2 separate regions of the Homo sapiens genome follow, and region 2 is linked to region 1. The links come from fine-mapping of genetic effects on gene expression. A gene starts in region 1. The other region holds a variant in brackets. All regions are shown on one strand. Distances are from middle to middle. Region 1 holds the start of RAB35-AS1 (RAB35 antisense RNA 1). Region 2 has its middle 12 kb from the start of PXN.

Region 1 (5,372 bases):
AAAATCAATTCATCACACAAAATGTACTGTGAGAAAGCGGGCCAAACCCATCCCCTGGGCTTTACAGAGGAGAAGAGCCAACAAGCTGCATCTTCCTGCTGAGTTTAGGCTTTTCACTGTTGGATATCAACGCAGAGGTCCAGATGTCTTGCAGAGGGATAAAGGCTCCTGACCACGGCGGGCTGTCACTCCAAAAAGAGAGAAATGGCCCCAGTGCCAGTCCCTCAGAACCCAGGCCAGGGCTGCAAGGAAATCATGTAAAGGAAGAAGCCTCAAGACCCTGAAGAATACCAAAGGCCATCTCCAAGAGAACACTCCAGAGCTTGCCTGGTTTCCCTTCATTCAAACCATAACCAGTCAGTACTCCACCTTTCTACCTCCTTCCCCAACCTCAGTTACTCTTCCATCTCCCTGGTTAGCCCCCAGCTTTCCCCCTTACCTCTCCCCTCCTCCAGCAACCACGGAAACCTCAGCCATCCTTCACCTGATCCAAACCACCAACCACATCTCCATCCAGCTTTAAAAGGGAGGCCAAAACCACCCACTTCCCTGACCTAGCTCTGACATCGCTACCCAACACTCCTACATCCCAAGTCATACCGCTCACTTGATTTGATCCCCTTTCCTTAACAGTCCATGGGCTCTACCACCAGCCTGGCCTCTGCCTCCAATCATAAGACATCCCTCCCCACACTCAGCTCAGGTCTGGTCTACAAACTGAGCATGCTCCCAAGACTCTTTCATGAACATCATATAACCCCAGCACCTCAGTTTCGCTCCCATAAACCTTCTGGGGCCTGCCTTCCTGACCTCTTGGTCACTCCATAAACCTGCTCACCTGCCACACTCCAAACAGCTCTAAAACCCTCCACCTTTTCCCAGAAACCAGTCTACCTTTTCGAAGGACACTTAATATTCATTAATTCCTTCTGCAAATATGTCTTAAGCATGTACTGGGTGCCAGGCACTGTTCTAGGCACTGGAGCTAGAGCAGTGATCAGAGCTAGGAGCCCTCAAGCAGTGTGTGTGTGTGGCCAAAGCACTTTTATAATTTTGGCTGTCCCATCCCCAGGACCCCTCTGTATATAGTAGTGTAACAGCAAACAGTGACAACTCACTATGTGCCAGGAGCTGTGAGCAACACTGCAGAATCTCACTTAATACTCACATCAACCCCATAAGGCAGATCCAACTATCATTCCATCTTACAGATGAGGAAACTGAACCACGCAGGGATATAATAATTCAGCAGGAATATGCCAGACCCTGTGCAAAGCCCTTTATCCGACTTACCTCATTTAAACCTCACGGCAATCCCATGAGGCAGGTTCTGAGAACGTCCTCATTTTAGATGGGAAGAAACTGACGCTTATAAAGGATACTGATGATAATGACAATAGTGAACATTTACTTCGAGCTTACTTTACCGGGTAGGGCGCTACGCACTTTTCCTACTTTATCCCATCGAATCCTCACACCACCCAGCAAGGCACATCCCCACTTCTCAGATGAGGGAACTGAGGCTCAGGACGGCGAAGCAACTTGCCCAAGGTCAGCGCGAGGCAGGTGGTAGTCCTGAGACTCGAACCCACGTCTCTCCAACTCCAGAGATCGCGCGACTTGACCAAGGTCACACGTGAGGCAGGAACAGGCGCGATGACTGGACCCGGCGCGCTTGGCCCCTCCGCCCCGCGCCCCAACCTCCCCTCGGCGCGGTCCGGAGCCCCTCGGCGCACCCCTGGGGCCCAGACCGCCGGGCTGCCCCGCCCGCCCGCCCCGCACGGGCCGGCACCTCCCCGCCCGCCTGCCGCCCCGAGGCCCCCGCGGGCCGCGCCCGGCAGGGCCCGCGCCGCCTCCGGCCGCTGCGGCCCTCACCGCTGTCGCCGATGATGAGCAGCTTGAAGAGGTGGTCGTAGTCCCGGGCCATGGCGGGCGGGGGCGGTGCGCGCGGGCGGGCGGGGTCGGTACTGGCCTCGCGATCCGCAGCTCCCTTCGGGCTGCTCCGGCAGCGGCGGATCCACTTCCCGAACAAACAGCCGGAACTGACAGAAACACCTCCCTCCGCTCCCCCTCCTCCTCCTCAGCAGCCGCCGCCGCTACCACCGCCTCCCTCCTTCCCGCCCCGCCCCACCACTGCGCAGGCGCAGCGTCTGGCACCGCCTTGCGCAGCCGCAGCCTGAGCCGGCCGCGCCCGGGTCGCGCACGCGCCCTGACGGAGTCCCAGCAAGCGCGGGCCCGTCTTCCTCGCGTCTCCTCGGGGAGCGTCGTCGCCGCCACCCTGGGCGCTGAGAGCTTGCGGAGCCGAGCCGCTGTCGAGTCCCAGCGGAAAGAAGCCCAAGGTGCCGGAGAAGCCCGGTCGTGGACGTTGTTGCTCCCTCATCTTCGAGACCCGCACGCCCTGCGGAGAGGAAATGACAGGCACGCCGCGACCGTGGGGCGGGGCTCGCACGAGCTCCGGGTTTCCAGAGGCAGGGGCCGGGGCCGTAGAAGGCAGAGTCGCGCGGGGAAGGCCCGGTACCCCGCCCCTTCCGCACCGACCCCTCCCCCGCGGAGCTGGCCCCGGCCCCGGGCCTGTGGAGTGGACGCCGAGGGCGGCGGGCGGCTTCCGAGTTGGACAGAACGGGAGCTGCCGGCGGGAGCAGAGCTGCGAGGAGGTGGCCTTTGAGGGCAGCGCGGGGTCGAAATCCCATCCCAGCGCTGTGACCTCTTGGAGCCCACATTGCCTCTTTGGTGGAGGGGAGGGAGTGGTCCAGCTCCGAGCCGAGCCTGGGAGCTGAATGACCCAGTGTGCAAGGCGCACCTCGGAGACCGAAAGCAACCGCTCCCCCGGCTTCAATTTCACACCACCTGCAGATACACGTCTCAGAATCTGCGGCTAGGAAGACCTGGGCCGCCAGAAGCTAAACGTGTGCATTTTGTCATCAGCCCCGGTTTCTCGTTTTAGAGTGAGTTCCCACCTGCCCTACCTAAACTGACCTGAAACGGAAAGTTGTATGCCCCCACGACCATCCTCACTGCAGAACTGCAGAGGGTTTTAAGCTCCTTATTACCTGTTTCTTATAATCCTGTCCCTTTCCAGGCGAGTATTTATCGGATAGTTCTACTTGTTTTATCAAACTTCCTTTTCTTTTGACTTTATAAAAAGCAATGCCGGGAGGCTGAGGCGGGAGAATCGCTTGAACCCGGGAGGCGGAGGTTGCAGTGAGCTGAGATCTCGCCATTGCACTCCATTCTGGGCAACAAGAGCGAAACTCCGTCTCAAAAAAAAAAAACAATGTTCGTCCTTAAAATTATGTGCAGAAGTTTACTGAAAAGTACAAGTTACTATTTTTCCTTCTGAAGCACTCCTCACAGGTAACCCCTGTTAGTTTCACAGGTAACCTTAAAATGCTTAACACATATTTGTTGAATGAATAAGTGCCCCCCAGTGAATTTCCTTTGCCTGTACAAACATATATGTACATACCTTGCTTTTTCTATTTAACAGTACACTTTTATCATTTAACATCTGCGTGGTATGGTACTCCATCCGATAACCATCGGATGTACTATTATTTAACCACTCCGCTATTAATAGACATTCATGCTGTTTATATTTTTTGGTTATAATAAACATTGTTGCAGGCGGGATCATTGAACAACACATGGAGTGTCTGACTCAAGCCTTGAGTTGTTTTTCCGGGAGCTGAGAATCAGTGTGGTGATATCGAAATAACATGAGCTTGGAATCTGAAGGTACTGGCTAGGGAGAAGAGCTGCTCATGTGCTCCCGATAGAAAGTCCCCCTTGGTCGGGAAGGTTAGGGCCATCCTCTGACTCAGCAGTTTTAGGAAATAGAGGGGGAGAAGGAAGGTATGTACCTTCCTTCCACCAGGGAGGCACGCCCAGCCCTAACCAGCCAGCGAGGCAGTAGGTCCTCCTAGCTCATCTTCACAACCTGGGCTGGTGTCGGGAAGACTTTCGTTCCAATGCTAGCTTTGGAATCCTGGCCTCCATCCCTTAAAAGCTTTGTGATCTTAGGTAAGTCACATCACACTATCTCAAAGCCCCCGTTTCCTCACAGAATGGTTGTTTTAGAGTTATGTTTGTAAATTACCTGGCACATGTAGGCATGTGACAGACTGTAACCAATGTTACTCAAGGTCATTTTGCACTGATTCATACTTTGAGCCATTTCCTACTGTAGACTCTAGCACACATTTTCAAGGCAGCTTCCTGATAATAAGGCTGTAGGATATTTTTGGGAAATAAATCCAAATTGGCCATTAAAACCAGATTCCTGACTTTGCCTGCATGTGTCATCTGGAAAGCAATCGGCATAAATTCCTTCATTTCTTTGGTAACTATTTAATGAGTGTTTATGTGCCACGGATTGCAGAGGTTATAAGAAGAGAGCCTTAGGCCGGGCGCTGTGGCTCACACCCATAATCCCAGCACTTTGGGAGGCTGAGGCGGGAGGATCACGAGGTCAGGAGTTCAAGACCAGCCTGGCCAAGATGGTGAAACCCCATCTCTACTAAAAATAAAAAAAATTAGCCGGGCACGATGGCAGGCGCCGGTAATCCCAGCTACTCGGGAGGCTAAGGCAGGAGAATCGCTTGAACCCGGGTGGCAGAGGTTGCCGAGATTGCACCACTGCACTCCAGCCTAGGCGACAGAGCAAGACTCCGTCTTAAAAAAAAAAAAAAAAAAAAAGGAACAGAGCCTTTTCTCACCAGTTCACAGCCTCATCAAGAGTTAAGACATACTCATGAGGAAATTGAAAGTATAAGACAATACAGTAGATAGAAAAGCTGTCAGATATGCAGTCTAGACTTCAGAGGAGGAAAGCTATAGCTTTTAGTTAGAATGATGGGGAGAAGATTTTATCATAAAGATGTCATGATGGCACTGGAATAGGAGAGCTTTGAGTGTCTATTTAGACAGTCCCTGTCACAGTCTATGAGAATCATCATTTGGCTTGGAGGGGAATTCCCTGCAGGCCAGGGTATGTGCCTGGCATCTCAAAATGAATCAGCACATTTTCTTCTGGAAACATTGTTAGACATTTATTTAAACTACAGTTCAGTGATGAGTTATGTTAAGCTTTCTTTCTCCTTCTCACTGTATACATATGTAAACTTGTGTGACCTAAAGGATCAGTGTGTCCAGTAATGGGAAACTTTGTTCCACTGCTCTGAACAGCTAACTTACAGATGAACTTTTGCAACACCACCTGTTTGCACATTAGAAACTATTAATACGATGAGGAGGCATTGAAAGTTTTTGAGCAAAGAGGCAATCTCAAAATATTTTAGTGAAGTAATCTGGCAGGGTGCAGGATGGATTTCAGCTGCAGAGCTTTAAAGGTTATTGCTGAAGCCTGGGTGTAA
Region 2 (5,372 bases), 160 kb after region 1:
TAAATATATCATGTATATTTCATGAGTACTGAGTTGACATGCAACACTGTAGGGTGGTCCCAGGCATAATTCTCCCAAATGTAGTGTGACTAACTGCCACTGGTGGAATGAGAGGTTGTAGCTAGTACAAAGATTTATTATTTTATTTGTATTTTTTGCAGACACAGAGAGGTCTCACTTTGTTGCCCAACTGGTCTCAAACTCCTGGGCTCAAGGAATCCTCCCACCTCGACCTCCCAAAGTGCTGGGATTACACACATGAGCCACCATGCCCAGCTCAGTTTTTTTTTTTTCTTCTTTTCAAGACAGAGTCTCGCTCTGTCGCCCAGGCTAGAGTGCAGTGGCGCGATCTCGGCTCACCGCAAGCTCCACCCCCCGGGTTCACGCCATTCTCCTGTCTCAGCCTCCCGAGTAGCTGGGACTACAGGCGCCTGCCACCACGCCTGGCTAATTTTTTGTATTTTCAGTAGAGACGGGGTTTCACCGTGTTAGCCAGTATGGTCTCGATCTCCTGACCTCGTGATCTGCCCGCCTCGGCCTCCCAAAGTGCTAGGATTACAGGCGTGAGCCACCGCGCCCGGCCAGATTCCTTATTTTAATAGTTACATATTTATGTGTTAGAAAATTATCTAATTAGCACATAAAACCTGTGATGGCTCCAATATTATTTATTTATTTATTTTATTTATTTTAATTTTTGAGACGGAATCTCGCTTTGTCACCAGGCTGGAGTGCGGTGGCACAATCTTGGCTTACTGCAACCTCCGCCTCCCGGGTTCAAGTGATTCTCCTGCCTCAGCCTCCCGAGTAGCTGCGACTACAGGCACCCACCACCATGCCTGGCTAGCTTTTGTATTTTTAGTAGAGATGGGGTTTCACCATGTTGGCCAGGATGGTCTCGATCTCTTGACTTCATAATCCACCTCCCTCGGCTTCCCAATGTGCTGGGATTACAGGCATGAGCCACCGCGCCTGGCCCAGCTCCAATATTATTGTTTAGGATAAAGATAAGGTTTTTTTGTTTGTTTGTTTGTTTTAAAGTGGGTCCACTTAAAGAAAACTATGTAGGGACGGGCACAGTGGCTCACGCCCATAATCCCAGCATTGTGAGAGTCTGAGGGCTGAGGAGGGTGGATCACCTGCGGTCAGGAGTTCAAGACCAGCCTAGCCAACATGGCAAAACGCCATCTCTATTAAAAATACAAAAATTAGCCAGTGTGGTGGTGCAGGCCCCGTAGTCCCAGCTACTTAGGAGGCTGACGTGGGAGGATCACTTGAGCCTGGGAGGCGGATGTTGCAGTGAACCGAGATTATGCCACTGCACTCCAGCCTGGGCGACACAGCAAGACTTCATCTCAAAAAAAAAAAAGAAGATTTGAGCTAGAATTCCAGTTTTCCTCAGTTCCCATTTGGGGATCCTGGGAGAGTCTCTCAGCCTCAGTTTTCTCATCTGTGAGATGGGGATATTGAGAATTCTTCTCCATATGGCATGCCTGCCTGGAAGGGCTTATAAACAAAGAATTGTGTCTGGGCATGGTGGTTCATGCCTATAATCCCAATACTTAGGGAAGCCGAGGTGGGCAGATCACTTGAGGTCAGGAGTTCGAGACCAGCCTGGCCATCATGGTGAAACCCCGTCCCTACTAAAAACACAAAAATTAACTGGGTGTGGTGGCGTGCACCTGTAATTCCAGCTACTTGGGAGGCTGAGGCAGGTAGAATCACTTGAACTCAGGAGACAGAGGTTGCAGTAAGCTGAGACTGGGCCACTGCACTCCAGCCTGGGCAACAGAGTGAGACTCCCATCTCAAAAAAAAAAAAAAAAAAAAAAAAGTTAAAGAAAACAAAGAATTATAAGGTCAAAAAGGATCTCAAGAGATTCTTCAACCTTTTCTCAGGTGAAGGGGGCTGGATTTCCACCTTCATCCTCCTCTCTATCACCTAAGGACCCCATATGTTGACCGGGTGTCCACCTGGAAGTCATCCTCTGTTCCTCCCCGTCCTCGCTTTCCACACCCAGTTCTGCCTGTCCATCTGCAAAGTGTAGCCCAATTCCCACCCCCACCCCCTCATTTTCACCTCTGCAATTATATCTCTAGGTGCAGCCACGCACTACCCTCTCTTGCCTGGGATTACTGCATGAACCTCCAAACTGGACCTCTATTGTCAATTTTCTACCCAGAAGCCAATAAGCCAATGTTATCTTTTTAAAAAAATTTTTTTGAGATGGAGTCTTGCTGTATCACCCAGGCTGGAATGCAATGGCGCAATCTTGACTCACTGCAACCATC[A/G]CCTCCCAGGTTCAAGCCATTCTCCTGCTTCAGCCTCCCAAGTAGCTGGGACTACAGGCACGCTATCACGCCCGGCTAATTTTTCTTATTTTTAGTAGAGACAGGGTTTTGCCATGTTGCCCAGGCTGGTTCTGAACTCCTAACCTTGGGTGATCCACCCCCCTCGGCCTCCCAAAGTGCTGGGATTACAGGCGTGAGCCACGGCACCAGCCTAATGTTATTTTATTTTATTTTATTTATTTATTTATTTCGAGACGGAGTCTCACTCTGTCGTCCAGGCTGGAGTGCAGTGGTATGATCTCGGCTCACTGCAACCTCCGCCTCCCAGGTTCAAGTGATTCTCCTGCCTCAGCCTACTGGGTAGCTGTGATTACAGTCACACGACACAACACCTGGATAATTTTTTGTATTTTTAGTAGAGACAGTGTCTCACCATGTTGGCCAGTCTGGTCTTGAACTCCTGACCTCTGGAGATCCGCCCCCCTCGGCCTCCCAAAGTGCTGGGATTACAGGCGTGAGTACCCGGCAATGTTATGGTTTTTTTGTTTTTTTTTTTTAGTATTTATTGATCATTCTTGGGTGTTTCCCAGAGAGGGGGAAGTGGCAGGGTCATAGGATAATAGTGGAGAGAAGGTCAGCAGATAAACACGTGAACAAAGGTCTCTGGTTTTCCTAGGCAGAGGTCCCTGCGGCCTTCGGCCTTCAGCAGTGTTTGTGTCCCTGGGTACTTGAGATTAGGGAGTGGTGATGACTCTTAAGGAGCATGCTGCCTTCAAGCATCTGTTTAACAAAGCACATCTTGCACCGCCCTTAATGCATTTAACCCTGAGTTGACACAGCACATGTTTCAGAGAGTACGGGGTTGGGGGTAAGGTTATAGATTAACAGCATCCCAAGGCAGAAGAATTTTTCTTAGTACAGAACAAAATGGTGTCTCCTATGTCTGCTTCTTTCTACACAGACACAGTAACAATCTGATCTCTCTTTCTTTTCCCCACATTTCCCCCTTTTCTTTTCGACAAAACCGCCATCGTCATCATGGCCCTTTCTCGATGGTCGCTGTCTCTTCGGAGCTGTTGGGTACACTTCCCAGGCGGGGCGGCCTGGCAGAGGCGCTCCTCACCTCCCAGAAGGGGTGGTGGCTGGGCAGAGGCGCCCCTCACATCCCAGACGATGGGCAGCCGGGCAGAGGCGCCCCCCACCTCCCTGATGGGGCAGCCGGGCAGAAACGCCCCCCACCTCCCAGACGGGGTGTCCGGGCAGAGGCGCCCCCCACCTCCCAGATGAAGGGCGGCCAGGCAGAGGTGCTCCCCACCTCCCAGACGGGGGAGCCGGGCAGAGACGCCCCTCACCTCCCAGACGGGGTGGCTGGGCAGAGGCGCCCACTTCACAGACGGGGCGGCCGGGTAGAGGCACTCCTCCCAGATGGGGTGGCGGCCGGGCAGAGGTGCTCCTCACATCCCAGACAGGGTGGCGGCCAGGCAGAGGCGCTCCTCACCTCCCAGACGGGGTGGTGGCCGGGCAGAAGCGCTCCTCACCTCCCAGACGGGGTGGCGGCAGGGCAGAGGCGCTCCTCGCCTCCCAGACAGGGTGGCAGCCGGGCAGAGGGGCTCCTCGCTTCCCAGACGGGGCGGCCAGGCAGAGGTGCTCCTCGCTTCCCAGACGGGGCGGCCGGGCAGAGGCTGTAATCTTAGCACTTTGGGAGGCCAAGGCAGGCGGCTGGAAGGTGGAGGTTGCAGCGAGCCGAGATCACGCCACTGCATTCCAGCCTGGGCAACACTGAGCACTGAGTGACCGAGACTCCGTCTGCAATCCCAGTACCCCAGGAGGCCGAGGCGGGCAGACCACTCGAGGTCAGGAGCCAGAGACCAGCCCAGTCAACAGGGCGAAACCGTGTCTCCTCCAAATATACAAAAACCAGTCAGGCGTGGCGGCGCGTGCCCGCAATCCCAGGCACTCGGCAGGCCAAGGCAGGAGAACCAGGGGAGCCCGGGGCAGGGAGGCTGCAGCGAGCCGAGACCACGGCAGTACAGTCCAGCCTTGGCAACAGAAGGAGACCGAAGAAAGAAAGAGGGAGCGGGTGAGGGGGAGGGGGAGGGGGATGGGGGAGGGGGAGGGAGCTGTTATGTTTTTTTTTTAAAAATCAACTTTATTGGGCTAAGTGCAGTGGCTCATGCCTGTAATCCTAGCACTTTGGGATCTTGACATAGCTGATCTCAGATCTTGGCATAGCTGTTCACGTGCCACCTCTGTGGGTCCTGAACATTTTATCTAAAGTCTCCCCGTACCCCACCAAATCAGACTCCTTACCCTGGTATTTGTTGAGGTTCACCTTCTGCCATTATATTCTGCGTTTATTTGTGTACTTGTTTATTATTTGTCTCTGCCTCCCCCATTAAAATGTCAGGGCTATGAGAACAGGGACTATGTCTGTCTTGTTTGCTGCTTGTTCACCAGCATCTGGAATGGTAGGTTTGAGTAACTATTTTTGAACGAATGAAAGACTGGCAACATGGAGATGCCAGGAGATGAGTGAGCTGGGCTGCATAATTAGTTGTAGCATCAGGATGAAAACCCCAATCTCCTGGCCCCCAGCCCAAACCTCTCTCCTCCTTCTCAGGCCATTCACAGATCTTCCCAGGACTGACACACAAGACAGTACAGGGGTCTTAACTGCAGTGGTTTTTTTTTTTTTTTTTTTTTTTTTTTTGAGACGGACTCTCCTCTGTCGCCCAGGCTAGAGTGCAGTAGCGCGATCTCAGCTCACTGCAAGCTCCACCCCTCGAGTTCACACCATTCTCCTGTCTCAGCCTCCCGAGTAGCTGGGACTACAGGCGCCCACCACCATTCCCGGCTAATTTTTTTTTTGTATTTTTAGTAGAGACGGGGTTTCACCGTGTTAGCCAGGATGGTCTCAATCTTCTGACCTCGTGATCTGCCCGTCTCAGCCTCCCAAAGTGCTGGGATTACAGGCATGAGCCACCATGCCCGGCCCGTTTTTTTGTTTGTTTGTTTGTTTTCCCCAAGATGGAGTCTTGCTCTGTTGCCCAGAGCTGGAGTGCAATGGCACAATCTCGGCTC

The links. PIP is the estimated chance that this variant, and not a neighbour inherited with it, causes the effect.
Region 2: its variant is fine-mapped to the expression of RAB35-AS1 in lung (TOPMed, PIP 0.97).

Annotation. Positions count from the first base shown.
Region 1 is chr12:120,114,724-120,120,095 of GRCh38, forward strand. RAB35-AS1 (RAB35 antisense RNA 1) reads left to right here and starts at 2,184. Exons shown (of 1, transcript NR_182302.1): 1 at 2,184-4,280. RAB35 (RAB35, member RAS oncogene family) reads right to left here and starts at 2,030. Exons shown (of 6, transcript NM_006861.7): 1 at 1,876-2,030. The coding sequence starts at 1,927. RefSeq lists enhancers at 1,221-2,013, 2,014-2,805, 3,598-4,389, 3,809-3,908, 3,939-4,008 and 2 more and silencers at 1,731-1,860, 1,961-2,270, 2,431-2,780, 2,871-2,930, 2,918-3,096.
Region 2 is chr12:120,274,655-120,280,026 of GRCh38, forward strand. No RefSeq gene overlaps it. Among named protein-coding and RNA genes, the nearest start is that of PXN, 12 kb to the left of the region's middle. The variant A/G (reference allele first, on the strand shown) is at 2,292.